5 separate regions of the Homo sapiens genome follow, and all the other regions are linked to region 3. Evidence: fine-mapped expression QTL. A gene starts in region 3. Each other region holds a variant in brackets. All regions are shown on one strand. Distances are from middle to middle.

Region 1 (5,097 bases), 44 kb before region 3:
ACCCCGCCCCGCCCTGTGCCATCGGGCCACAGACTCTGTTCCTGGTTACCCAGCTGCTGCCCGGCTGTTCTCCGAGGTCTGGCCACCCAGCTACAAGCCCTGCTTCTCCACGGCCCTCTGCTGTTCAGTCTCTTCCAGCTTGAGCAGTGGCTGCAGCGCCTCAGAGGGCGCTCCACGGTGCCGTGAGCTAGCCATGTCTGCAGAGCCAGGCAGAGCCGGGGCACCCACAGGCAGGAGGGGAGACCCCCGTCCCCCAGGCCTTTCCTTAGACTTCTGTTTCTTTTTTAAATTCCAAAGTCATAATGACAAAGTACCTGCAACTATTTCATAACCAAAGCAACCAAGGGAGGGAGAAGCACGGAATGATCCCACAGCCCCTGCGCCAGGCCGGCCAGGGATTGAGGAGGGAGGTACGTGGGTCAGACGCCATGGCCACTGTGAGGGGCGGCCGGGCTTGAGTGACACCAGGTCAGAGGGAGGTTCCAGGAGGCAAAGCCCCACGGTCACCCCTCCTGAGCCGCACACTGGACGGGCCTGGTGCTCGGGGTCTGCTGGAGCACGGACGCTGAGGCTGCCTCCAGGTAACCCCCACCCGGCCCTGCCCTCGCAGCCCCCACGACGTACTTGTAGGTCGGAATGTTCCAGAGGCCCTGCCACTTGTACGTCTTCAGGGACAGCCACTCAAGGGTCTTCATGCCGCAGTAGATGCCCAGCCCGTTGCAGACGAGCACGTCCATGATCCACTGCAGGGAGGGGCCAGCACTCGTTGCAGGGGTGAGGGGTAACGAGCCCCCCGAGGAGGACCCCGGAAGAGCACAGGGGAACCGAGAATGCCCCTCAGCCTGCACCCACTGCCCCCCGGGGAGAATGAGGGGGTCCAGGGGCCGCGCTGGGCACAGGGGTTCCGAGAATGCCCCTCAGCCTGCACCGACTGCCCCGGGGGCTGTGCTGGCACCTACGTGATCCCACCAGCACTCGCTGAAGTTGGGCAGCTGGTGCTCCAGGCTGTACTCCAGGAACTCGAACATCACGCTGATGATCATGCACATCCACCAGTCTCGGATCATCAGGGTCTGTGGGCGCCAGGGTCAGCCAGAGTATGGGACGCCGGCCACACCCGGCCCTGCCCACGGGTGCGTGCAGCCCCCACCCCGGCTGGCAGCCAGAGTATGGGACGCCGGCCACGCCCGGCCCTGCCCACGGGTGCGTGCAGCCCCCACCCGGCTGGCAGCCAGAGTATGGGACGCAGGCCACGCCCGGCCCTGCCCACGGGTGCGTGCAGCCCCCACCCCGGCTGGCAGCATTCTTGGAGTCGACAGCACTGGCAGGGCCCCCAGTGAGGTCTCAGGGTGAGCGTGGGGTGGGTGGCTGCCCCTCCAGCAGCCTCGATGTACGACTGTCAGCAAACAAGGCAGCATCCCCGTGCCCGGGGCCTGACACCAAACTCTGCCAGGGTGGGCTGCAGGGTCAAGCAGGCACTGCTCTTAGCCCCATAGGTAGCACAGGGTCCCTCAGAAGTGGGATGGGGCAGTGCCCAAGCCCAGGCAGGGGCGGGACTTCCTGCCCTGCCGCCTCTTTCCACCGCCCCGACCCTGAGGACGGAGCGGGGACCCGACCAGGATCAGGGCTTCTGGGAGGTCCGGGAGCCCCACGGCTTCTCGAACCTCTGGGTGGCTGCAGTGCGACACCCTCCCACCACACTCAGAGCACCCTGAGCTCAACTCCATGGACAGAAACGGTCCAGAGCCCACGGCAGGCCTCAGAACCGGGGCGGGGAGGCCGGGAAGAGGAGGTGCCGTACCTTCAGGTACCAGCCAAGAAAGTGCGCGGGAACAAAGCCATCCAACTTGTCCTGTGGGCGACAGGGTATGACCCTTGACCCTGGGGCACAGCCACCCCCACTCCCCACACCGGCAGATCAGCCCACACCTGAGCAGCACCTGCCAGACCCCGGGAAGAAGGCCAGGGACTCACAGGTGCTGCCGTGGCCTGTGGAGACCACGTCCACGACAGCCTAGAGAGCAGGGGCCCCCTGCCCACCATGAGCACCATCCAGACGGACAGGGCCTCAGCACATCTCTGCACCAGGAGACCCCAAGTGTGGGCTGAGGGGTGCGAGGCAGGAGCGTGGATGGCGCCTGGTCCGGCACGGGGCCACACCTGGGGAGGGGCTCGCCTCAGGGCCCCCGGCGTCTTACCCAGATGTTGTGAAAGGGGTCAGTCTCATTGTCTGGGTCGTAGATGAGGCAGTTTCCCCCGTAGTCTCTCTCTGGCAGTGGGACTCCCAGCTTGGGGTCAACATACTTTAGAAACTGCCGGCCGTCCTGGACAGTCTGCAAGGCCAGTGCCCCCGTCAGCGGGGCTACAGTTAGTGGTGGCAACTTGAAACGGGAGATCATGGTTGTTTATTTATTT[TA/A]TTTTTTTGAGATGGAGTCTCGCTCTGTCGCCCAGGCTGGAATGCAGTGGCGTGAACTGGGCTCACTGCAAGCTCCGCCTCCTGGGTTCACGCCATTCTCCTGCCTCAGCCTCCCGAGTAGCTGGGACTACAGGCGCCCGCCACCACGCCCGGCTAGTATTTTTTTTTTGTATTTTTAGTAGAGACGGGGTTTCACCGTGCTAGCCAGGATGGTCTTGATCTCCTGACCTCGTGATCCGCCCACTTCGGCCTCCCAAAGAGCTGGGATTACAGCCGTGAGCCACCACGCCCGGCCAGGAGATCATGGTTGTAAACTGCATCTCAGTCACCCTGGAGGAGGGCAGCGCCCTGTCTCAGCAGCCCTCCCCACCCCAGGGAAATCCTGGTGGGGCAGCGCGTGGGGAAGGAACCCCCAGGCACGACACCCCATCTCCACACCTGCGCTCCCCGGGGCCAGGTGGGCACAGGTGCGCTTCAGGACATGGGGGTCTAGGACCGCTGGACAGACGGGAGCGGGATGGGGCCCTGAGTTACTGCGGCGCGCCGCCCCCACCCCGACCCCTCCCCGCATGCGCGCTCAGGCCAACACCCTCACAGGAGTCGCCCTTGTGGAACCTGCTCTTTCCTCACCCAGACGCTGGCATCAGCCAGATACACCTCTTGACCTTAGGGCAAGGCAGGCTTTTGGGCCTGACGTCAAGGGAGGTTTACATCATTTACAGACACCTGTGCTCACAGCACACACGCACCAGGGCACCAGCTGTGTTTACACTCGCCTGCGCACACGGTGAACACACACGCCCGTGCACTGTTTACACTCGCCTGCGCACACGGTGAGCACGCGCGCCCGTGCACTGCTTACGCTCGCCTGCGCGCACGGTGAGCACACGCGCGCCCGTGCACTGTTTACGCTCGCCTGCGCGCACGGTGAGCACACGCGCGCCCGTGCACTGTTTACGCTCGCCTGCGCGCACGGTGAGCACACGCGCGCCCGTGCACTGTTTACGCTCGCCTGCGCGCACGGTGAGCACACGCGCGCCCGTGCACTGTTTACGCTCGCCTGCGCGCACGGTGAGCACACGCGCGCCCGTGCACTGTTTACGCTCGCCTGCGCAGTGAGCACACGCGCCCGTGCAGTTTACACTCGCCTGCGCAGTGAGCACACACGCGCCCGTGCGCTGTTTAAACTCGCCTGCGCACAGTGAGCACACACGCGCCCGTGCACTGTTTACACTCGCCTGCGCAGTGAGCACACGCGCCCGTGCAGTTTACACGCCTGCGCACACGGTGAGCACACGCGCCCGTGCACTGTTTACACTCGCCTGCGCACACGGTGAGCACACGCGCCTGTGCAGTTTACACTCGCCTGCACAGTGAGCACACACACCCGTGCACTGTTTACACTCGCCTGCGCACACGGTGAGCACACACGCGTCCGTGCACTGTTTACGGTCGCCTGCACACACACAGCACACATGCCCATGCACTGTTTACAGACGCCTGCGCAGTGAGCACACACGCGCTCGTGCACTTACACTCGCCTGCGCACACAGTGAGCACACACGCGCCCGTGCACTGTTTAAACTCGCCTGCGCAGTGAGCACACACGCGCCCGTGCAGTTTACACTCGCCTGCGCACAGTGAGCACACACGCGCCTGTGCAGTTTACACTCGCCTGCGCAGTGAGCACACACGCCCGTGCACTTACACTCGCCTGCGCACACAGTGAGCACACGCGCCCGTGCACTGTTTACACTCGCCTGTGCACAGTAAGCACACGTGCCCGTGCAGTTTACACTCGCCTGCGCACACAGTGAGCACACACGCGCCCGTGCACTGTTTACGCTCGCCTGCGCAGTGAGCACACGTGCCCGTGCAGTTTACGCTCGCCTGCGCACACAGTGAGCACACACGCGCCCGTGCAGTTTACACTCGCCTGCGCAGTGAGCACACACACGCCCGTGCACTGTTTACAGACGCCTGCGCACAGTGAGCACACGCACCCGTGCACTGTTTACACTCGCCTGCGCACACGGTGAGCACACGCGCCCGTGCAGTTTACACTCGCCTGCGCACAGCACACACACCCGTGCACTTACACTCGCCTGCGCACACGGTGAGCACACGCATCCGTGCACTGTTTACGCTCGCCTGCACACACACAGCACACACGCCCGTGCAGTTTACAGACGCCTGTGCACACAGTGAGCACACATGCCCATGCACTGTTTACAGATGCCTGCGCAGTGAGCACACACGCCCATGCACTATTTACAGATGCCTGCGCAGTGAGCACACACGCGCCCGTGCACTGTTTACACTCTCCTGCGCACACAGCACACACGCACCCCTGCACTGGCTGTGTTTACAGACGCCTGCACACACAGTGAGTGCACACATGCCCGTCCTCTGTGAGCTATGGCACCCAGGACCACGCAGCCCACCCAACACCCAGGCCTCAGTTCCTAATATTCAGTAAGGACCCAAGGCTCTTGGAGAAGGGGCTGATTCCAGGACCAGGGTGGGGAGTGGACAGGAGGAGCCTGGAGCATCCCGCAGTGCTAGGAAGTCAGGATGTCCTCAGAAAAACAAAACGAAAAGCCAAGAACTCCGTGAGGGTGTGTGAAAGCAATACAGGAACCACGTGGAAATTCCTTTTGGCAAAAGAATTTGGGCACCAC
Region 2 (5,085 bases), 39 kb after region 3:
CGCCCCGACCTGGCCCCCAGACTCCTTCCTCCGATTTTTGGAAAGAAGTGCAGCTGGCGCTGCCGCGGAAGGTGCAGTACAGGCCTGTGGAAGGAGACCCCCAGACGCAGCTGCAGGACGACAAGGACCCCATGCTGATTCTTCGAGGCCGAGTCCCTGAGGGCCGGGCCCTGGACTCAGAGGTGGACCCGGACCCTGAGGGCGACCTGGGTATGCCCGCCCAGCCCCACTCCCCAACTGGAGAAGCTCAGCACAGGGCGGAGTGGGGGCAGGCACAGGGCACAGGGCCTGGAGGGGCTCCAGGTGTTGAGGACTCTTCCCGGCACCGGGAGCCCCTGCACGGCCTCTGCCCTGGAGGTGCTCGGCCCTCGGTCTGCCTGGGAACTTCCTGGGCCTCACAGGCCATCACAGCAGGGGGTGAGCAGGGGCAGCCCCTGGCAGTGGGTCTGGGCCAAGGCTGTGGGTGGCCACCTCAGGCGTCTCGGTCTCCCCACCCCAGGTGTCCGGGGGCCTGTCTTTGGAGAGCCATCAGCTCCACCGCACACCAGTGGGGTCTCGCTGGGAGAGAGCCGGAGCAGCGAAGTGGACGTCTCGGATCTCGGCTCGCGAAACTACAGTGCCCGCACAGACTTCTACTGCCTGGTGTCCAAGGATGATATGTAGCTCCCACCCCAGAGTGCAGGATCATAGGGACAGCGGGGGCCAGGGCAGCGGCGTCGCTCCTCTGCTCAACAGGACCACAACCCCTGCCAGCAGCCCTGGGACCCTGCCAGCAGCCCTGGGAAAAGGCTGTGGCCTCAGGGCGCCTCCCAGTGCCAGAAAATAAAGTCCTTTTGGATTCTGCTGGGGCCTCGGTCTCCTCCCTTGCGGCGGAAGGTTTCGGATTCGGCTTCCCTCTGCGGCTCTCTCAGCCTTCCACCCCTCCTCTCTCATCCCCACCCCTCCCTCTCTCATCCCCACCCGCCAAATCACCAAATCTGCCCTCTCTCCATCCCCCTTCCTAAGCCAGCTCAGGCGTGTCCCGTGCTTACAGTAGCCTCCTTGGGCCTCCTTGCCTGGTCCCTGGTTGGGGACGTGACTCTTCCTAGACCCTTCCCATGCAGGCAGATCCTGGATGGGGGCAGGCTCCTTAGAGACCTCAAGTTCTGAGCTTCACAGAAACTTTCTGTTTTAAGAATATCCACAGTAACTTCACAACTAAATGGCCTGGCTCTGGGTGAGATGGATGGGGGTGTCCGAGAGCCCACTGGACCCCAAACCTCAGGCAGCCAGTGTGAGAGCCCCTGGTCCAGGCAACTCCAGGCCCAGGGTGGGCGGCGGAGGAGTTGGGTTCATTTGCCGCATGAGTGTAGCCCACGAGGCAGCCACCCTGTTCCTACTCCAGTCACCCCTCTACTCTCGAGGCCCCCAGCTCTGCTCCGTCTGTGCCTGTGGTGCACCCGCTGTCCACCCTGTCCCCTCTCGGCCCTGAGGTGCCAGCTGTCCCTCTGCTGGGCTCTCCATGTCCTATGTCCTCTGATCTTGGGAGGCTTGTGTGTGAGCCCAGGGGGTGGGTGTCCTCAGGGGCAGGGGGTGCCTGGGGACACCTTGAGTCCCAGGATCATGCTGCCAGCCACAGGGTCGGGCCAGCCATGGAAGGACACAGGGCAGTGACTGTTCATGGCCATCTTTATTCCCAGTGCTGGCTATCCCAAGATACTGCCAGGCCACAGCCAACCCCCACCTCTGCCAATGTGACTGGGTCACCACCCCATACACCAGAGCAGCCTTGAGCCCTGCCCCACCCCCTGCCCTGCGGAAGCCAAGTCCCCAGCTATAAGACCCTGCCCCTCCTGGTGGCCCAGGACCCTCAAAGATGCACACAGGGGCCCCAGCGAGGGGCCCCTCCGTCATTAGCCTTCTCCTCCAGGCTGGGCTGCCAAGCAGCCTGGAGCTGAGTCTGTCCCTTGGACGCTGGGCCACGTCACCTTCTCCTCCAGAAGGCTTCACCTATGGGCCCAGGAAGTCCTCCTTCCGATAGCCCTTCTACAGTGGAGAGAGGCCCAAGGTCAGGGTGCATGTCTGCCCATGTGGCCCTCTGCCCGCTGTCCCTCCTGCAGTGTGCTGGGTGTGGCCCGGACCCTTCCTCTCTGGGTCCCTGGTCTCCATCCTCCCATGGGCCTCTTCACTGACCCTCCCCCGGCGTCCCATGCCCTGCACCCGGGTCCCTGCTTGCCCTGGGCTCGGGAAACGTACCGCCCGGAAGTCACGGTGGAGCTTGTTGTACTGCCACAGGTTGGCCAGGAGGCTGGATGCTGCCCGGGAGGACTTCTCACTGTCGGGGCTGAGGGTGGAGGGCAGTCAGGAGGGGACACACAGCCAGAAAGCAGGGTGGACTGGGAGGACCCCTGACCAGGCTGCTGCACGGCTGGGTCGGCCCCTACCTGTCCCGCTTCTTCTTGATGAAGATGAGCTTTCGGAGTCCGTCAAAATACAGCAGGTCTCGGGCAGCGATGGGGCTGGCCACCACCAGGTTGTTGAGCACAGCTATGATGTTGACCAGCACCTCGGCTGGGGGCGACTTCTCACCCACGCTGCCCGGCAGCTTCTCGATCAGGTGGCTCACCACCTTCGTGGCTGTGGGAGGCCGGGGGTCAGTCTGCACCCCTACTCCTGGCCACCTGGGCACCTGGGGTCCCCTGCCTCCCCCAGGGAGCTGGACTGGCCCCAGTGGTCTGAAGCCCACACTTAAAGACAAAATTGACATGTGGGTCCAGCAGGGCAGGGACGAGGGGCTGCCCGACTCACACATCTCGTCCTTGTTCCTAGCGTTCCGAGACAGGTTTCGGATGAGGCCAGTCAGTGAGCGCAGCTGGTGGTGGTCGGCGGTCCTGACACGGTCTAGCAGGGGGTTCAGAATACGCTCCTGCTCCAGGGCCAGGCGGCTCAGCACCCCCGCCCACTGTGGGGAGGGAGGGTGTGAGCCGTGACCCGGAGGCCTCAGACCCTCACCTGAGGGGGTCCTGCCACAATG[G/A]GGTCGCTGCATCCTCTCGCCACCCTCAGGGGGGCCTCTGCTTCTGCCTTTGCCCCCCAGCCGGGGGGAATCAGCCGCAGCCCGGATCAGGTGCCTCCCTTCAAACCCAGGGCAGGACTTCCATCCTCCCAAGGCCCAAGGCCTGCGCCACCGGGACGCTGACCTCCGAGGCTCCGCGGACCCTGGGCGTCCCCTTCCTCCTCCCCTCCCTCTCCCTCCTCTGTCCCCCCCTCAACCGCATGAACCCCTGGGACCCCCTCGGGTCTGGGTTGGGTGCCCCACCCTGCGGTCGCCTGCCGTGATGTTCTGCAGCGCCCCGGCGGCCGCCTCCGTCGTGTGCCGGTTGAGCTCGCAGCGCTGCAGCAGCCGGTTGTACAGCCCCACGATCTGGGGGCTCCACAGCCACTCGAGGCCCTTGGGGTCCTTGGACACCTCCGCGAAGGTGAGCGCATCGGCGGCGAGGGGCAGCTGCGCAGGGCGGGGAGGAGTCGGCGGGGTCGGGGTGAGCGGGTCGGGGTGAGCGGGTCGGGGTGAGCGGGTCGGGTGTGAGTGGGGCGGGGGTGAGCGGGGTCCGGGGTGAGCGGGGCGGGGGTGAGCGGGGCCGGGGGTCGGGGGTGAGCGGGGTCCGGGGTGAGCGGGGCGGGGGTGAGCGGGGTCCGGGGTGAGCGGGGTCGGGGTGAGCGGGTCCCGGGGTGAGCGGGGCGGGGGTGAGCGGGGCGGGGGTGAGCGGGGCCGGGGGTGAGCGGGGCCGGGGGTCGGGGGTGAGCGGGGTCGGGGTGAGCGGGGCCGGGGGTGAGCGGGGCCCGGGGTGAGCGGGGCAGGGGTGAGCGGGGCGGGGGTGAGCGGGGTCGGGGTGAGCGGGTCGGGGGTGAGCGGGGCCGGGGGTCGGGGGTGAGCGGGGTCGGGGTGAGCGGGTCGGGGGTGAGCGGGGCCGGGGGTCGGGGGTGAGCGGGGTCGGGGTGAGCGGGGCCGGGGGTGAGCGGGGCCGGGGGTCGGGGGTGAGCGGGGTCGGGGTGAGCGGGGCCGGGGTCAGTGGAGCCGGGGGTGAGCGGGGCCGGGGGTCGGGGGTGAGCGGGGTCCGGGGTGAGCGGGGCCGGGGTCAGTGGAGCCGGGGGTGAGCGGGGCCGGGGGTCGGGGGTGAGCGGGGTCCGGGGTGAGCGGGGCCGGGGTCAGTGGAGCCGGGGGTGAGCGGGGCCGGGGGTCGGGGGTGAGCGGGGCCGGGGGTCGGGGGTGAGCGGGGTCCGGGGTGAGCGGGGCCGGGGTCAGTGGAGCCGGGGGTGAGCGGGGCCGGGGGTCGGGGGTGAGCGGGGTCCGGGGTGAGCGGGGCCGGGGTCAGTGGAGCCGGGGGTGAGCGGGGCCGGGGGTCTGGGGTGAGCGGGGTCGGGGTGAGCGGGGCCGGGGTCAGTGGAGCCGGGGGTGAGCGGGGCCGGGGGTCGGGGGTGAGCGGGGTCCGGGGTGAGCGGGGCCGGGGTCAGTGGAGCCGGGGGTGAGCGGGGCCGGGGGTCGGGGGTGAGCGGGGTCCGGGGTGAGCGGGGCCGGGGTCAGTGGAGCCGGGGGTGAGCGGGGCCGGGGGTCGGGGGTGAGCGGGGCCGGGGGTCGGGGGTGAGCGGGGTCCGGGGTGAGCGGGGCCGGGGTCAGTGGAGCCGGGGGTGAGCGGGGCCGGGGGTCGGGGGTGAGCGGGGTCCGGGGTGAGCGGGGCCGGGGTCAGTGGAGCCGGGGGTGAGCGGGGCCGGGGGTCGGGGGTGAGCGGGGCCGGGGGTCGGGGGTGAGCGGGGCGGGGGTGAGCGGGGCGGGGGTGAGCGGGGTCGGGGGTGAGCGGGGTCGGGGGTGAGCGGGGCCGGGGGTGAGCGGGGCCGGGGGTGAGCGGGGCGGGGGTGAGCGGGGCGGGTGTGAGCGGGGCCGGGTGTGAGCGGGGCCGGGTGTGAGCGGGGCCGGGTGTGAGCGGGGCGGGTGTGAGCGGGGCCGGGTGTGAGCGGGGCCGGGGGTGAGCGGGCCGGGGGTGAGCGGGGCGGGTGTGAGCGGGGCGGGTGTGAACGGGGCCGGGGGTGAGCGGGGCCGGGGGTGAGCGGGGC
Region 3 (5,097 bases):
GAGCAAGACTCCGTCTCAAAAAATAAAAAGAATAAATAAATCTCTTTTAATCTAGGAAAAATTTTTATATGTTTGTAGTCTGTTTTTTTTACTTAGCAGTATAACATAAGCATTTTCCTATGTTCTCAAAAACTCTTTGAAAGTATAACTTCTAATGTCTGCTTAATCAGCATATAAATATGAATACCATGTTTTCGCTGATATTTTCCTATTGTTGAACATTGGTGGTTTACAATTTTTGCTGCAAATGACATATATACATATTTTCATTATTTTGCATTTTTTTAGAACAGTTTACAAAAAGTTAGATTAATGAACCAAAGTCTAAACAATTTTAAGGCTCTTAATACGTATTATAGCTGAATTGCTTTCTGAAAGGGCTGTACTGGTTTTCTGTCCAGATAGGACTGGGTGGGGTCCCCCTCCCTCTCCACCCTTCACTGATCGTAAGGGAACTTCCACGCTGGGTGAGGCCAGCGGCCAATGCAGCCGCCTCGCTGAGCTCTCTCCCCTGAAGCTGGATATGCTGGCTTTACAGCCAGGACTCTGGAAGTGACTGAGGATTCCTCTGGTGACGCCCACGGAAGGTGTGGGGGGAGGAGGAACAGTGTTTCTGCAACGCAACTGGGAATGCTGAAAAAGTCATTGAAAGAGAGCACAGCAGCTGTGTGGACACTTGAAGTGGCGCCTGAGTAACTCACATGACCTGCTAGCAGATTGTTTTAACACACTGAAAACGTGGAGATTGTTTTATTATTTATTTATTGATTTATTTATTTTGAGACGGAGTTTCACTCTGTCACCCAGGCTGGAGTGCAGTGGCACGATCTTGGCTCACTGCAACCTCCACCCTCCGGGTTCAAATGATTCTCCTCCCTCAGCCTCCTGAGTAGCTGGGATTACAGGCGCCTGTCACCACGCCTGGCTAATTTTTTGTATTTTTAGTACAAATGGGGTTTCACCATCTTGGCCAGGCTGGTCTTGAACTCCTCACCTCGTGATCCACCCACCTCTGCCTCCCAAAGCTCTGGGATTACAGGCATGAGCCACCGCACCCAGCCGAAGATTGTTTTAACACAGTGTGAAAACATGAGCACAGAGACCCCTGAGCGGGCTGAGCTGGGGACTGGGGAGCGACACCCGTCACGGACGGTGCAGGGGCTGGGAACGTGGATCTTGCGTGTGAGTTCCTCCCATACTCAACAAGCCTTGCACATTCTGTTTCTGAACTAGATCTAACTTGGCAGCTGTGACCCCCTGGTGAGACTGCCGGATGTTCCCTCTCCCGCTTACCCTGCTTTCTTCCATGGGAAAAGAGCTCACATGCCCCAGGCTTCCTTGCCATAGAGTGTGGTCACGTGACTAACCATGTGAAGGGTGAGGTTCCCTCCTTCGCCCTTTCCTCTTCCCACTGGCTGGAACGTGGATGTGATGACTGGAGCTTGAGCAGTCATTTTGGACCAGGTGCTGGGACCATGTATTTAAGGTGGCAGAGCAACAAGCTGAAGGCATTCTGGGTCTCTGATGACTATAGTTCGGCCATACTAGTCCAGGACTAGCCAACTCCAGATTTTTGTTTTGCTTTGTTTTAAAGACAGAGTCTTACTCTGTCACCCAGGCTGGAGTGCAGTGGTGTGATCTTGGCTCACTGCAACCTCTGCCTCCCAGGTTCAAGCGATTCTCCTGCCTCAGCCTCCCGAGTAGCTGGGATTACAGGCGTGCACCACCATACCTGGCTAATTTTTGTATTTTTAGTAGAGACGGGGTCTCACCATGTTGGGCAAGCTGGTCTCGAACTCCTGACCTCAGGTGATCCACCCGCCTCGGCCTGCCAAAGCGCCGGGATTACAGGCATGAGCCACTGCGCCCGGCCAACTCCAGATTTCACTTATAGGAGAAATACACAGCTTGTTTAAGCCACCACCATTTTGCACACAGATCTGAATGTGTTCCATTTGGATTTGCCCCATCTGAGCTCACAGGTCCTCGGCCACCACTTCACTCGCTTGTCTTTGCCAAAGTGGCAAAGCTGTGGTCTCTGCTGCCATCCCAGCCTGCCAGGAGGTCCCCCAAGGAGAAACATGGGTGGGACCATGTTACCCCTTGGGGAAACCAGAGCCGACTGTTGGCCCTGGGCCTGGACCACAGCAGAGGGCTGCTGGGCTTGCCGGGGGGTGCTCTGGCCCCAGTGGGCCTGGAGCCGTTCCGTGTGACAGCGTCTGCCTGCGGAGCTCTGGCCCTGCCTCCCCAGCTTTGCAGCAGCTTTCAGAAGCAGACTCCTCGCCACACACGCTGCAGATAATGTGTGCCAGCCCACGGCCTGGGCCCCCACTCCCCGCAGCCCTTCCCTCCTCAGGGCACTCCACTGGACGGTCACTCTCAGGACACCCAGAGCCTGCCCAGCTGCCGCCCTCAGCCCAGGCTGCACAGAACGTGCTCAGGGACTGGGGATGCGGGGTGGAGGGCTCCTCCTCCGTTGTCTACACAGCCTGGGGCCAGCCACGTGTCCCCAGGACTCCAAGGATTCCCCAGTGGGGCCCAGAAAGCAGGGGCTTGGGTAGGAGCAGACAGTTTCTTTGGGAGTCTGTCTCGTCGTCAGTCCTCCTTGCCCCAGTTTCTCCTCTAAGGGAATCAGCACTGGACCTGTGGGGTGGGGGGCCGTGGCCCGGGGTGGGGGGCCGTGGCCCGGGGTGGGGGAGGCCGTGGCCCGGGGTGGGGGAGGCCGTGGCCCGGGGTGGGGGGCCGTGGCCCGGGGTGGGGGGCATGGCCTGGGGTGGGATGCTTTTGGAGGGAACATGGGGATGTGTGAGCGGGGGTGAGAGAGGCAAGGCAAGTGGGGGCGTTGGTGCTGGCTCTGTCAGGGGCTCTGTGCCATCCTGCTTCCCCCTAGGACCAGGTGTCATGAGACCCATCTCACAGTGGAAACCCCCTTCCCGGGAACTCCAGCCTAGGAATTCCCCTCTGGCCCCTGACCCGCCATCTGGGCTCCAGGAAGGTGTCCCAGGCTCCAGGGGCTGGGGTACTCTCCTGGCCTGGATGCTGGCTCCGCCCCGACTACACCCAGGCGCGGCAGCTGCAGGACGCTGGAGGAGGAGGAGGGAGGGGCGAGCCCCACGCGGAAGTCAGGTAGGAGCACCCGCCGCTGGCAGCCACTCTCCTGGCCGCCAAACCCCAGCTGGAACTCCGGCCACAGCCAGCATGCAGGTGAGTCCTGCGCTCAAAAGGGTCCACACCTTCAAGGCCCCCAGCCACGCCCACACCTGGGGCCCCCGGCCCCAGCCCCCCGCCAGCCCCACCTGGAAGGCGCCTGTGTGTGTGGGGGGGGTCCCTGCAGGCTGCCCGGTCAGGCGAGGGTGACCGCCCGGCTCAGCTAAGCTGCCTCCTGGACTCCTGGGGCACGCTGGGGGTTGGAAGTGCTGGAGGCGGGCGGCGTTCCTCCCTCCAGCCCGGGATTCTGAGGGCACCAGGGCTGGGCTCTCAGCTAGTGTGTGGGGCCAGGAACCTCTACCAGAGTCCTGAACACGAGATGGAGAGGGCCTGCCCACCGAGGCGGGGGCTGCTGCTGAGGACCCCAGACCTGGCAGCTTTGCCTTGCAGCTGGCCCCTAAGGGGGAGCGGGCTGTGGGCACCAGGCAGGCTGCCCCAGGGTTGGGAGCTGCAGAGTGGCCGGCGGGCTGTGGGCTCTCTGCTCCCCAAGGACCCCGCCCAGCACAGGTGGGGGCCGACTGCTGCTGCTGGATTCCGATTCTGGGGGTGGGCGCTGACTGCTGCTGCTGGATTCCGATTCTGGGGGAGGGAGTGCAGGTGAACACGTAGAAAGACATCCTTTCTCCCCTCTGCCAGTGAAGAGGTCACCTGGGGCCAGGGCCAACACCTGGGCAGGTCAGCACCTGGTCGGCCCAGGGAGGAGGCAGTGGTGAGGTGTGGAGTGAAACCAGCCTCCCTCTCGGCCTGCCAGGGCCTCCACGTGTGGGCTGCGCCGGCGGCCTCTTGCTCCATCTCCGCCCAGGGCTCTCCTCGGCCCTCCACATCCAGGTCTGACACCCTGGCTGCTCAGCCCAGCACCTGATGCCCCTTAGCCTGAGCTCAGGGTCCCCTCTGCCAGCCCCTTCCTCCCATGCTGGGGGTTAGAGGAGAGACTTGGGGCTGGCCAGGGGTTGGGTTGGGAGAAGCAGCACCTGGTTTGTTGGAAGTGAGAGCATCAGTCCTTCAAAAAAGACAGTTGCAGCCGGGCCTGGTGGCGCATGCCTGTGGTCCCGGCTACTCCGGAAGCTGAGGCAAGAGGATTGCTTGAACCCGGGCGTCGTGGCATGCACCTGCAGTCTCAGCTACTCAGGAGGCTGAGGCAGGAGGACTGCTCGAACCCGGGCGTGGTGGCGCGTGCCTGCGCTCCCAGCTACTCGGGAGGCTGAGGCAGGAGGACTGCTGGAACCCGGGCGTGGTGGCATGAGCCTGCGGTCCCAGCTACTCCGGAGGCTGAGGCAGGAGGGTTGCTCGAGCCTGGGAGTTCTGGGCTGTAGTGTGTTAGGCTGACTGGCTGTCCGCACATCAGTATGGTGACCTCCCAGGAGCAGGGGACCACCAAGTTGCCTAAGGAGGGGTGAACCGGTCCAGGTCGGAAACGGAGCAGGTCAAAACTCCTGTGGTGATCAAAAAGGACAGTTGCAGACATGGGGAGGACTTGCTAGTCCCAGCTCCAGGCTGGATCTGGGCGTGCCTTTCCTCTGCTCTAACCCCTTCCATGGCTCCCCACTGCCCCCTGCTGAAGTCCAAGCTCTCCATTTGGCCAAGAAGCCTAGCAGCCTCCCCTGATTGGCCTCTGCCAACCTCCAGCCTCCCCTTCTGGCAGCTCCCTTCTTGCCCTTTATGCTTCTGCAAAGCTGAAGTACCAAGGACTGAGTCCCTGGACTCAGTTTCCGTAGGTGCCGAGTGCTGAGTCACCAGGAGTAGTAGCTACCAAGTCCTCCTTGGAGGTGCTGAGTGCTGAGTCCCTGGGAGGTGCTGACTGCTGAGTCCCAGACACCAACTGCACCCTGATTCTCAGGGCGTGCCCACACATGTTCTTTCTCCCGGGAATGCTGCCCCCATTTTCTCACC
Region 4 (5,097 bases), 23 kb after region 3:
GCGGGTGACCGATACTTTCTCATGCCATGTTTCCCCGCAGCTTTGCCGCACACGGAAAAGCCAGTTCTGCTGGATGCTCGTTTTGTATCCACTTGAGCACTCGATTGATTTATCCACCCAGGCTTTCAGTTGTTTTATTTTGATTTTCCAGGTACATAATCATGTTTTCTAAAAGAGTCATTTTTTTCTTTGCAAATGTATACTATTTATACTTCATATTTCTCTTGCTTATTTGCAAGGAATTCCAGAACCGTGTTAAATACCAGTTGTCGTGAGCTACAATAGGAATGCTTTTGGGATTTCACCACTGACCATGAGCCTGACTTTTGGTTTAAGATAGTTCATGTATTTCTCATATTATGGAAAGCAGGTGATTTTAAACACAAAATAACCCATCGTGCCGTTTCCACGGGGAGAAACCGAGGCCACTCGTAACAGACACTGTCTGGAGCGTGTGTTGGAGCCTGTGGCCTTGCCTGTGTGTGTGTGTGTGCGCCCACGTGCAGGTGCGGTTCGTCTGGGAGCCTGTGGCCTCCCCTGTGTGGGGGTGTGTGTGTGTGTGCGCGCGCCCACGTGTGGGTGCGGTTCATCTGGGAGCCTGTGGCCTCCCCTGTGTGTGTGTGGGTGTGTGTGCGCCCACGTGCAGGTGCGGTTCGTCTGGGAGCCTGTGGCCTCCCCTGTGTGGGGGTGTGTGTGTGTGTGCGCGCGCCCACGTGTGGGTGCGGTTCATCTGGGAGCCTGTGGCCTCCCCTGTGTGTGTGTGTGTGTGTGTGCGTGCCCACGTGCGGGTGCGGTTCATCTGGGTGTGAGCACCTGTGCCCCGCTCACCTGCAGGGCCTGCCCCGCCTGTTCTGTGTCTTTCCTACCCGCTTCTGTCCTGCTGCACCCACCCTGTCAGAGGCAGGGCGCTGCCCGCAGTGCCCCAGACTTCCCCTTCCTCCCCAGGATCAACGGCCACCCCGGGAAGTCCACGCGCCTGGCGGGCTTGTGGAAGCTGGAAGAGGTCAGTCACCCCCAGGCTTCATGCCCTGTCCCTGAGCCACTGCTCCCCTGACCGTCCCCCAGGACCCCTCCCTGATCTCCTCCTGTCTGGCCCCGCAGTGCCACGCCAGCGGCTGCATGATGGACCTCTTCGTGCAGATGGCCATCATCATGGGCCTGAAGCAGACGCTCAGCAACTGCGTCGAGTACCTGGTCCCGTGAGTGCCGACCCCCGCCCAGCCCCGGGAGCCCCAGGCCCCTCCGCCCCCTGCGCCCTCCCTGCCACGCAGCTCTCCCCGCAGGTGGGTGACCCACAAGTGCCGCTCTCTGCGGGCCTCCGAGTCCGGGCACCTGCCCCGGGACCCCGAGCTCAGGGACTGGCGGCGCAACTACCTTCTGAACCCGGTCAACACCTTCAGCCTGTTCGACGAGTTCATGGAGATGAGTGCGTGGGCGCTGCGGGGCGGGGGTTCGCGGAGACGAATGCGGGGCGGGGGTCCGCGGACATGAGTGCGGGGCGCCGGTGAGCCTGACCCCCACCGCGCAGTGATCCAGTACGGCTTCACCACCATCTTCGTGGCCGCCTTCCCGCTGGCGCCGCTGCTCGCGCTCTTCAGCAACCTCGTGGAGATCCGCCTGGACGCCATCAAGATGGTCTGGTTGCAGCGGCGCCTGGTGCCGCGCAAGGCCAAGGACATCGGTCAGACCGGGCGGGCGCAGGATGGGCGGGAACTGGGCGGCCTCAGGCCTGTGGGCTTCCCGCTGGCCAGGCCGGCTCACCTGGAAAAAATAATCTCTCGGATCTCAGGCCGCAGACAGCCCCCAGCCCTTCTCCGACGGCCTCGGATGCGGGTTGAGCCTGGGTGGGAGGGTACCAGGAGTGGGCGGGGCCGAGCGCTTTGTAGGCTCCTCCCACAAACCGTCAGGATCTCAGAGGGGCTTGACGCCCCCAAGGGGGACCCAGGTTCTGCCAGTGGCTGGGGCTGGAACAGAGCAGCCGGCCTCTGTCCCAAGACTGGCCACGCTGAGACGGACAGGCAGCAGGGGAGCGACGGGAGCTGGGGCGCTGGATGTGGGGAAAGGGAGAGAGGTGTTAGGGAGGCCCCCAGTCTCGGGCCCAGGTTACAAGGTCTTACCCTGGGGTGGGAACCCAGGAGGTGGAGTGGCTGGGGGGCACAGCTGAGAAGTTCAGGAAGATGGAGGATGAGGATTCCCAGGTTCCTCCCTGTCCATGTCAGGGTGAGGGGTGCAGGAGCGCAGAGGCCATGCTCTGCCATGGCTGGGGACTTCCTTGTGAATACTGCAGCCCTAGGGCTGCAAGGGGACACCACGCACAGAGACACGGCAGGCCCCGTGTTGGCCGGGGGTGGGGGTGAGGGCAGAACCAGCCGAGGGACGCTGAGTCAGACCGCTTGCCCACTGCTCTGGTGCAGGGACCTGGCTGCAGGTGCTGGAGACCATCGGTGTGCTGGCGGTCATTGCCAATGGGATGGTCATTGCCTTCACATCTGAGTTCATCCCCCGAGTGGTCTACAAGTACCGCTATAGCCCATGCCTGAAAGAAGGCAACTCTACTGTCGAGTAAGGCCTCAGGGTGTCTGGAGACCCCTGGGAGAAACTGGCCCTACCACAGCCAAGCCCTGGGGGATCCAGACCCTTTCTCCTGGGAATGGCTGGACCTGTTGGTACCCCTGGGGCTTTAGTGAGGCTGGGGCCTGGGGGTGGCCCCTGCCCTGCGCCCACTGACGGCAGGCCCTGGGCTGGAGGTCAGGGATAACTGGCCAGGACCGCAGTTGGGGGTGAAGTTCCCAGACCTGGCTGCCTCCTGAGTAGGCCCTGCCAGAACGGCTCCCTCCCGATGTGAGGTTCCGCATGTCCTCTTCTGATTTATCCAGCTCTCTGACCTCGAGGAGCCACCAAACTGCAGACTGGGTCCCCAGGGCCAGTCTCTGGCAGGGAAAGTGGCTGGTGATGCCCAGAGTCCCCACAGTCCCC[A/C]CAAGGCCCCCGGATGTGAAGATGTGCTTGGCCCGGGAGCCCCGTCCCACTGGACGCAGTCTGTGGCGTGGCCCCCACCTCACTGTTTGCTCCACAACGCAGGCTAGAAGCACTCTGGGGCCTGAAGGGGCCGCCCTGGAAGCCCACCCCACCCCACACTCCTCTCCCCTCTCCCCAGCTGCCTCAAGGGCTACGTCAACCACAGCCTGTCCGTCTTCCACACCAAGGACTTCCAGGACCCTGATGGGATTGAGGGCTCAGAAAACGTGACTCTGTGCAGGTTTGGAACTCCCCATCCCCCAAGAATGCCCTCTGAACTCCTGACCCCTGACCTCAGGTACTTCCTTACCCCAGATACAGGGACTACCGCAATCCCCCCGATTACAACTTCTCCGAGCAGTTCTGGTTCCTCCTGGCCATCCGCCTGGCCTTCGTCATCCTCTTTGAGGTGAGCCAGAACCGGGAGAGGCCTCGGAGTGGGTCTGGGCAGTGCTCTCCCCAGTCCTTCTCCCCGGCCCTGAACCCCCAAATGCCAGCTGGCACCTGACCGTGCTGGGCCTCTCCTGTGCTGCCGCTAGCACGTGGCCTTGTGCATCAAGCTCATCGCCGCCTGGTTCGTGCCCGACATCCCTCAGTCGGTGAAGAACAAGGTTCTGGAGGTGAAGTACCAGAGGCTGCGTGAGAAGATGTGGCATGGAAGGCAGAGGCTGGGTGGGGTGGGGGCAGGCTCTCGGCCCCCAATGCCTGCCCATCCCACCCCAGCATCCATCTTCAGTGCCAGGAGCACAGACGTGTAGGGCCAGAGCCCGTCCAGAGGCCACCAGGAGCTGAGACAGTGCCACCACCAGCACCTCCCACAAGCCCACCGCTGTGCGTGTTGAGGGGTGCTGTGAGAAGGCTGTGCCCATGTGGGGCCGCAGGAATCCCCTGTATGTTCAGGGCTGTGAGCTGCCACCCTATTCCGCCTGCTCCGTCTTTGTGGGGGCTCTCAGGCTTGGCACAGCCCTGACTTGAACTCTGGGTGACCCTGGGCACCCACAGAACTGGGAGTGAGGGCTCCTCAGGCAGCCACAAGGCAGGAAAACTGGCGCAAATTTCCTGGGCCTCCCTCTGACTTCTGGGCGCCAGATCCTGCCGTGCCCCCATCCTGGCTGTTGGGGGTGTCCTGAGCCCACCTCGCTGGCCTGTTCCCTTCAGCCAACCCGTTTCTGCAGTAAAATTAAGCCTGTCTGTCTTGCTTTCCTGGCCTCGCTGGGTCCCGGGTGGATTATATCTGCCCTCAGGGCTAGATGGGAAACAGACCCGGAGTGTGGAACGTCTGGAACCAGGTGAGGCCGCCTCAGGCCGCCTGTCCCTTCTCCAGTTTTCCATGGGCTTCCAAGGGAGGGGCGCCTATGGGGTCCTCTCCCCGTCCCTGCACCTGGGGTGTTGAGGGAGGCAAGAGAAGACATCGGGGCCACTTGAGGGTGGGGTGGGGGTCAAGGCAGGCTTCCTGGAGGAAAGGGAAGAGATAGGGGCGGACGCGCAAAACCTTGAGGGCGGTGGACGCTCCGAAGAGTCCCCAAGGCTCTGGGGCTCCGGGGCTCTGCGCGCTGGTTGGGCTGGTTTGGCCACTGGCCCCAGGCCCGTGCGGCAGCGGCTCCCGGGCAGCAGCGCAGCCTCCAGCGCCAGCCTTGGGCGCAGAGCGGGACGCTGGGGTCCGCCCCCGCCCTGACTGCGGGGCGGGGCCGCACCTGCTGCCGCTGCCGGGGCTACGCCGCCGCCGGGGCTGTTGCCGCTGCGCACCTGGCTCAGGTGAGCTGCCCCGCCCCCGCCCGGCGCGAGCCCCAGGTCCTGGCAGCAGGTGAGTGGCGGTCGCCATCAGACCCGCGAAGGTGAGTGGAGGTCGCAGTCCTCCCAGAGCCGCTGCAGGCCTGGAGTCGGGGCCCGGGGCGCTGCTTGTCCCTGGGCGCGGTCTCTCAGGAAATGGCTCGGGGCCGGGGAGGTTCCCGCGTCGCCCGGAAGCCCGAGCTCGCCCGCGTCCTGGCCCTTTCCAGGGCTGGGGGAAGGGAGGAAAGTGGGCGAAGGGGGCGGGGGCCACCCTTTCCTCTGCCCGACGTGGTCAGCGGCTTTTTGGTGACC
Region 5 (5,097 bases), 260 kb after region 3:
CGCCTACAACGCTCCACCCCCGCGCTCTCGTCCCGGTGGCGCGTGACTCTGCGTCTGCACCACCCACCTCCCCCCAAACCCACAGCCTAACGACGTGCGTCTCTGCGCCTGCGCCGCGCCTCCCCCCGCCCCCCAGGGGACGCGCCACTGTGCGCCGGCGCCCGCGCGCCGCGCCTCTGTGCGCCTGCGCCGGCGCGCCGCGTCTCTGTCAATTTAGAAAGCTTATTTTGCCAAGATTAAGGACACGACCATGACACAGCCTCAGGAGGTCCTGACGACGTGTGTCCAAGGTGGCCAGGGTAGAGCTTGCTTTTGTACATTTTAGGGATACATGAGACGTGTAAGATGTACAGTCATTTGGCCCAGTAAGGCGGGACAACTGGAAGCAGGAAGTGGGGGTGCTTCCAGGTCAGAAGTAGGTTAGAGACAAAAGGTTGCATTCTTTTGAATCCTTCATCAGCCTTCCACTGAATACACAATTTAGTCTGGCTCAATGAATCTGCATTTTTACATAAATAATAGGGCAGAGGAAGCAATCAGATATGCATCTGTCTCAGGTGAGGGATGACTTTGAGTGCTGTCTGTCCTTTGTCCAAAAGGAAATTCTTTGTGGGCAAATTGTGAGTGAGGTATGTAGCTTTTTATCTTTGTAGCTATCTTAGTTAGGAATAGAATGAGGGCAGGTTTGCCTGACATAGCTCCCAGCTTGACTTTTCCCTTGGCTTAGTGATTTGGGGGTCCTGAGATTTATTTTCCTTTCATGGTATCAGAACAGAGAAAAGGTAATGCGTTGAGCCATGAGCTTATGACAAGATGGCTAGGAAGGAATTTTTCAGCTCCATTTTTATGTCATGGGACCACCATCATATGTATGCAATGCACGAGTGTAAAATCACATTTAGTTAAGTCAGCTTACACTAAGCTATGGACCCAGATGGTCCTGGGGCCTTTTTCCACTGGGAGATCTTTAAGGACCTTTCTTAGCTTTTCTATGCTAATTGGTATATTCATAGTTGCCTTATTTCAGGGCCCATTTTGTTAATGTGTATTTTTACTAGGAAATCACCCATTTTTTCTAGGTTTCCAGTTTGATGCAATTATTTGACTTTTAATTTCTCCTCTGTTTTTAGTTTTGTACATAATTTTCCTATCTACTTTTGCACTCTTTTTTCCATCAACAATATTTTTAAAATATACTTTTTAGCTTTTTTTGAAGAATTGTTATGTTTGACAATTTTTTATGACCTAATCATGACCGTAAATGATTTTTAATTAATTTCAGCTTAATGTCTTTTGTAGGGCACAACTGTTAAAATACAGAATTACAACAAATGTGGGTTTGCAGATCTTAATTGGCTTTTTTTTGTGGTTCTAGAATCAGGCAGCAGTCCAGACCAAAAATGGTTCAGAATGATCTGCCACACAACATGTGCGGGTTATATTTATAGCCAGAGGAAAAAAGTGACATACAGAAAACAGAAGTGAGGTATAGAGGTGGCTGGATTGGTTACAGACCTGGTTACAGCCCGGATTTGCCTTCTTGGAACTTGTTTTGAACAGCTGGCTGCCGGCCATTGACTGACACTCGGCTGATGTGATTGGCTGAACCGCCGCTATTTGTTACCATGATACATTCCCAAGTCAGATTTTCAGTTTGTTTCTATACTAAATTAGGTTGCGATTCTTCTTGTTCTTCTTCTTTTTTCTTTTTTGAGGCGGAGTCTCGCTCTGTCGCCCAGGCTGGAGTGCAGTGGCGCGATCTCAGCTCACAGCAAGCTCCGCCTCCCAGGTTCACGCCATTCTCCTGTCCCGGCCTCCCGAGTAGCTGGGACTGCAGGCTGCCGCCACCAAGCCCGGCTAATTTTTTTGTATTTTTTTTTTTTAGTAGAGACTGGGTTTCACCTTGTAAGCCATGATGGTCTCGATTTCCTGACCTCATGAGCCACCCGTCTCGGCCTCCCAAAGTGCTGGGATTACAGGCGTGAGCCACGGCGCCCGGCCGCGACTCTTTACAAGGACTCCTCGGGAGGCTTCCAGAGCCCAAATGTTGTTTGATGTAAGAATTCCTCCCTTTTGGTCAGCCTCTCAATTTTGAGATATTGATCAAAACTTTGGGCATTGGTGTCACTCTTTGTTGTCGTTGTAAATTGAGTTATTAGGACTTATTTGCTTTCAGTGTGGCATTTTCAAGTTTTATTTGGTCTCAGTGCCCTCTGGGCAATAGCAGAACACTGTGTTGTGTAA[G/A]GCGGAAATAGAGCAATAGAAAATAACAACTGATTTGTTAATATCAGATTACTTCAAGTTACTTGTTTTGGTAAGAATTAAAGCAGAGGGGACTTCTTTATGCTGACTCAGGTAGACTGGAATCTCTTCAGGGAAAAAGGGAGCTCTTTTGGGATCTATCTACTTCCTTAGAGTTTCAGCTTCGTTGTGTGTCATTCAGCGTGAGTGTCTCCATTCTGATTTTGCCTGCTCAGTGTGGCCTAGTGCGGGAGTGGTGACCGAAACAATGACCTCCCGTAGTTTGTTCCACAGTTCTCCCCTTTTGGTTGGGTTCCTGCCTAGGTGAGGGTGTGACTAAAACCTTAGGGCATTAGCGGTATTCTCAGTAACTATCATTTTAGGTTTCCGGTCTTAGGGCATTAGCACTATTCTCAGTAACTATCATTTTAGGGTTCCGGTCTTAGGGCATTAGCACTATTCTCAGTGACTATCATTTTAGGGTTCCGGTCTTAGGACATTAGCGGTATTCTCAGTAACTATCATTTTAGGGTTCCGGTCTTAGGGCATTAGCGGTATTCTCAGTAACTATCATTTTAGGGTTCCGGTCTTAGGGCATTAGCGGTATTCTCAGTAACTATCATTTTAGGGTTCCGGTCTTAGGGCATTAGCACTATTCTCAGTAACTATCATTTTAGGGTTCCGGTCTTAGGGCATTAGCGGTATTCTCAGTAACTATCATTTTAGGGTTCCGGTCTTAGGGCATTAGCGGTATTCTCAGTAACTATCATTTTAGGGTTCCAGTCTTAGGGCATTAGCAGTATTCTCAGTGACTATCATTTTAGGGTTCCGGTCTTAGGGCATTAGCACTATTCTCAGTAACTATCATTTTAGGGTTCTGGTCTTAGGGCATTAGCAGTATTCTCAGTGACTATCATTTTAGGTTTCCGGTCTTACGGCATTAGCGGTATTCTCAGTAACTATCATTTTAGGGTTCCGGTGTTAGGGCATTAGCACTATTCTCAGTAACTATCATTTTAGGGTTCCGGTCTTAGGGCATTAGCAGTATTCTCAGTAACTACCATTTTAGGGTTCCGGTCTTAGGGCATTAGCACTATTCTCAGTAACTATCATTTTAGGGTTCCGGTCTTAGGGCATTAGCAGTATTCTCAGTAACTATCATTTTAGGTTTCCGGTCTCAACACATCATTTAAGAAGTCAGTAAAGCTTTCTTCTACTGTGACAGCATATTTAATACTGAGAAAGAAAAGAAAATTTTTATCTTGCGAATGTGAGCTTCCTCTAAATTATCAGGTCCAGAGAGGCGTGGGAATGAGGCAGCAGTCACGTCCCATTTCCCTCTTAGCTAAGTAATCATATCTTGAAGCTGCTTGCTATGTAGACTAGACTGACTGTCATCAGCTATAGATTAACCTAAGAGTGTCTTTGAATATTTTTTCCAGTGGCAAATATTTGCTTCTGTTGTATCGTAGCTGAAAGGAATGCTGGGAAACAAAATAAAGACAAGCATTCATTAGAATAAGTGATCCAGTCACAATGAATCAATTTGAACTTTTTTTTTTTTCACAAAGTCATACTTTGAAAACTTCCAGCCGTAAATTGAAATAGTCTCCAAAATGTGAATTTTTTTCCCTGGTTCTAAGATGACCAGCTTTCTTAGAGAGTGAACTACACCATAAGAAAAATGATATGACCATGTTTACACATATATGTTATCTTAACATAAAACATGTAAAAGGGGCATTTCTTTGAAAGTATATATTAGTCTGTATAATTTACTTTGCAGTATCATGAATGCTCTTATTTTTAAAAGTAGGAGTAGTTACTGTCAATTACTAATTTTTAGTACAAATAATTTAGCAGATATCTGAAAAAATTACAATTTTTAAATAGAGGTTTTATTTTAAATTAGTTTTAGATTCATACAGAAATTGGGAAGAAAATGCAGATTTCCCATGTAGACGCAACCTAGTTTCCCCTCTTTTTAACATATCAACATGTATCAGATAGGTTTAACATCTTTTTTTTTTTTTTTTTCCAGACCAGGTTTTTTTTTTTTTCAACCAGGCTGGAGTGCAGTGGCGTGATCTCGGCTCACTGCAACCTCCGCCTCCCAGGTTCAAGCGATTCTCCTGCCTCAGCCTCCTGAGTAGCTGGTATTACAGGCGCCTGCCATCATGCCCGGCTAATTTTTGTATTTTTAGTAGAGATGAGGTTTCACCACGTTGGCCAGGCTGGTCTCGAACTCCTGATCTCAGGTGATCTGCCCGCCTCAGCCTCCCAAAGTGCTGGGATTACAGGCATGAGCCACCACTCCTGACCAACATCTTACATCATTTCTTGTCATACTTAATGACTGGATATTACTATATTATTAAATAAGCTCACATCTTATTTGGTTTCCCTTAGTTCTGCCTTTTTCTCTCCCAGGATCCTATCTAGGATCCCATAGGACATTTAGTCATCATGTCAGGCTCTTCTTGGCTGTGACAGTCTCTCAGACTTTACTTCTGAGGACCTGGAACAGTGTTAGGAGGATTGGTCAGGTATTGTGTAGAATGTCCTCCATTGTGGTTTACTTGGGGTTTTTCTCATAATCAGCCTGGGTTTAGGGGTTTGGGGGAAGCAGAGCAGATGTGTAGTGTGTCCACAAAAAGAGTCAAAGACTGTAAAATATTTGAAGAGATGTATTCTGAGCCAAATATGAGTGACCATGGCCCTTGACACAGCCCTCAGGAGACCCTGAGAACATGTGCCCAAAGTCGTTGGGGTGCAGGTTGGTTCTATACATTTTAGGGAGATAGGAGACATCAATCAAGTGTATTTAAGATATATATTGGTTCGGTCCAGAAAGGT

Which allele goes with the higher level. Positions count from the first base shown, and alleles are read on the strand shown. Sizes are in standard deviations (SD) of each study's normalised expression. Not every link is listed here.
For the expression in putamen of the gene that starts at base 3,114 in region 3, allele G in region 5 goes with a lower level than allele A (large effect, 1.0 SD a copy in GTEx).

The links. PIP is the estimated chance that this variant, and not a neighbour inherited with it, causes the effect.
Region 1: its variant is fine-mapped to the expression of ANO9 in whole blood (TOPMed, PIP 0.91).
Region 2: its variant is fine-mapped to the expression of ANO9 in whole blood (TOPMed, PIP above 0.99).
Region 4: its variant is fine-mapped to the expression of ANO9 in whole blood (INTERVAL, PIP 0.96).
Region 5: its variant is fine-mapped to the expression of ANO9 in putamen (GTEx, PIP above 0.99).

The regions. Positions count from the first base shown.
Region 1 is chr11:484,175-489,271 of GRCh38, reverse strand. It overlaps PTDSS2 (phosphatidylserine synthase 2), which reads right to left. Exons shown (of 12, transcript NM_030783.3): 5 at 2,199-2,333; 6 at 1,802-1,852; 7 at 960-1,073; 8 at 625-743. Among named protein-coding and RNA genes, the nearest start is that of RNH1, 21 kb to the left of the region's middle. RefSeq lists a silencer at 1,264-1,404 and an enhancer at 4,414-4,935. The variant TA/A (reference allele first, on the strand shown) is at 2,416.
Region 2 is chr11:401,474-406,558 of GRCh38, reverse strand. PKP3 (plakophilin 3) reads right to left here. Exons shown (of 13, transcript NM_007183.4): 9 at 3,296-3,481; 10 at 2,788-2,941; 11 at 2,424-2,616; 12 at 2,236-2,323; 13 at 1,651-2,025. The coding sequence ends at 1,990. SIGIRR (single Ig and TIR domain containing) reads left to right here. Exons shown (of 10, transcript NM_001135054.2): 9 at 21-210; 10 at 500-843. The coding sequence ends at 663. Among named protein-coding and RNA genes, the nearest start is that of PKP3, 9.8 kb to the right of the region's middle. RefSeq lists an enhancer at 344-1,037. The variant G/A (reference allele first, on the strand shown) is at 3,014.
Region 3 is chr11:440,028-445,124 of GRCh38, reverse strand. It overlaps ANO9 (anoctamin 9), which reads left to right and starts at 3,114. Exons shown (of 23, transcript NM_001012302.3): 1 at 3,114-3,204. The coding sequence starts at 3,199. It overlaps LOC105376506 (a long non-coding RNA gene), which reads right to left. Exons shown (of 5, transcript XR_007062542.1): 5 at 4,452-4,640. It also overlaps the pseudogene RN7SL838P. RefSeq lists enhancers at 1,716-2,513, 2,821-3,090 and silencers at 2,922-3,216, 3,261-3,340.
Region 4 is chr11:417,047-422,143 of GRCh38, reverse strand. ANO9 (anoctamin 9) reads left to right here. Exons shown (of 23, transcript NM_001012302.3): 16 at 946-1,003; 17 at 1,102-1,199; 18 at 1,284-1,426; 19 at 1,529-1,681; 20 at 2,415-2,562; 21 at 3,155-3,256; 22 at 3,331-3,424; 23 at 3,555-4,206. The coding sequence ends at 3,773. It also overlaps a transcript of SIGIRR not described here. Among named protein-coding and RNA genes, the nearest start is that of SIGIRR, 4.6 kb to the right of the region's middle. RefSeq lists an enhancer at 413-1,274 and a silencer at 4,913-4,962. The variant A/C (reference allele first, on the strand shown) is at 2,977.
Region 5 is chr11:184,530-189,626 of GRCh38, reverse strand. It overlaps a transcript of SCGB1C1 not described here. Among named protein-coding and RNA genes, the nearest start is that of SCGB1C1, 6.0 kb to the left of the region's middle. The variant G/A (reference allele first, on the strand shown) is at 2,245.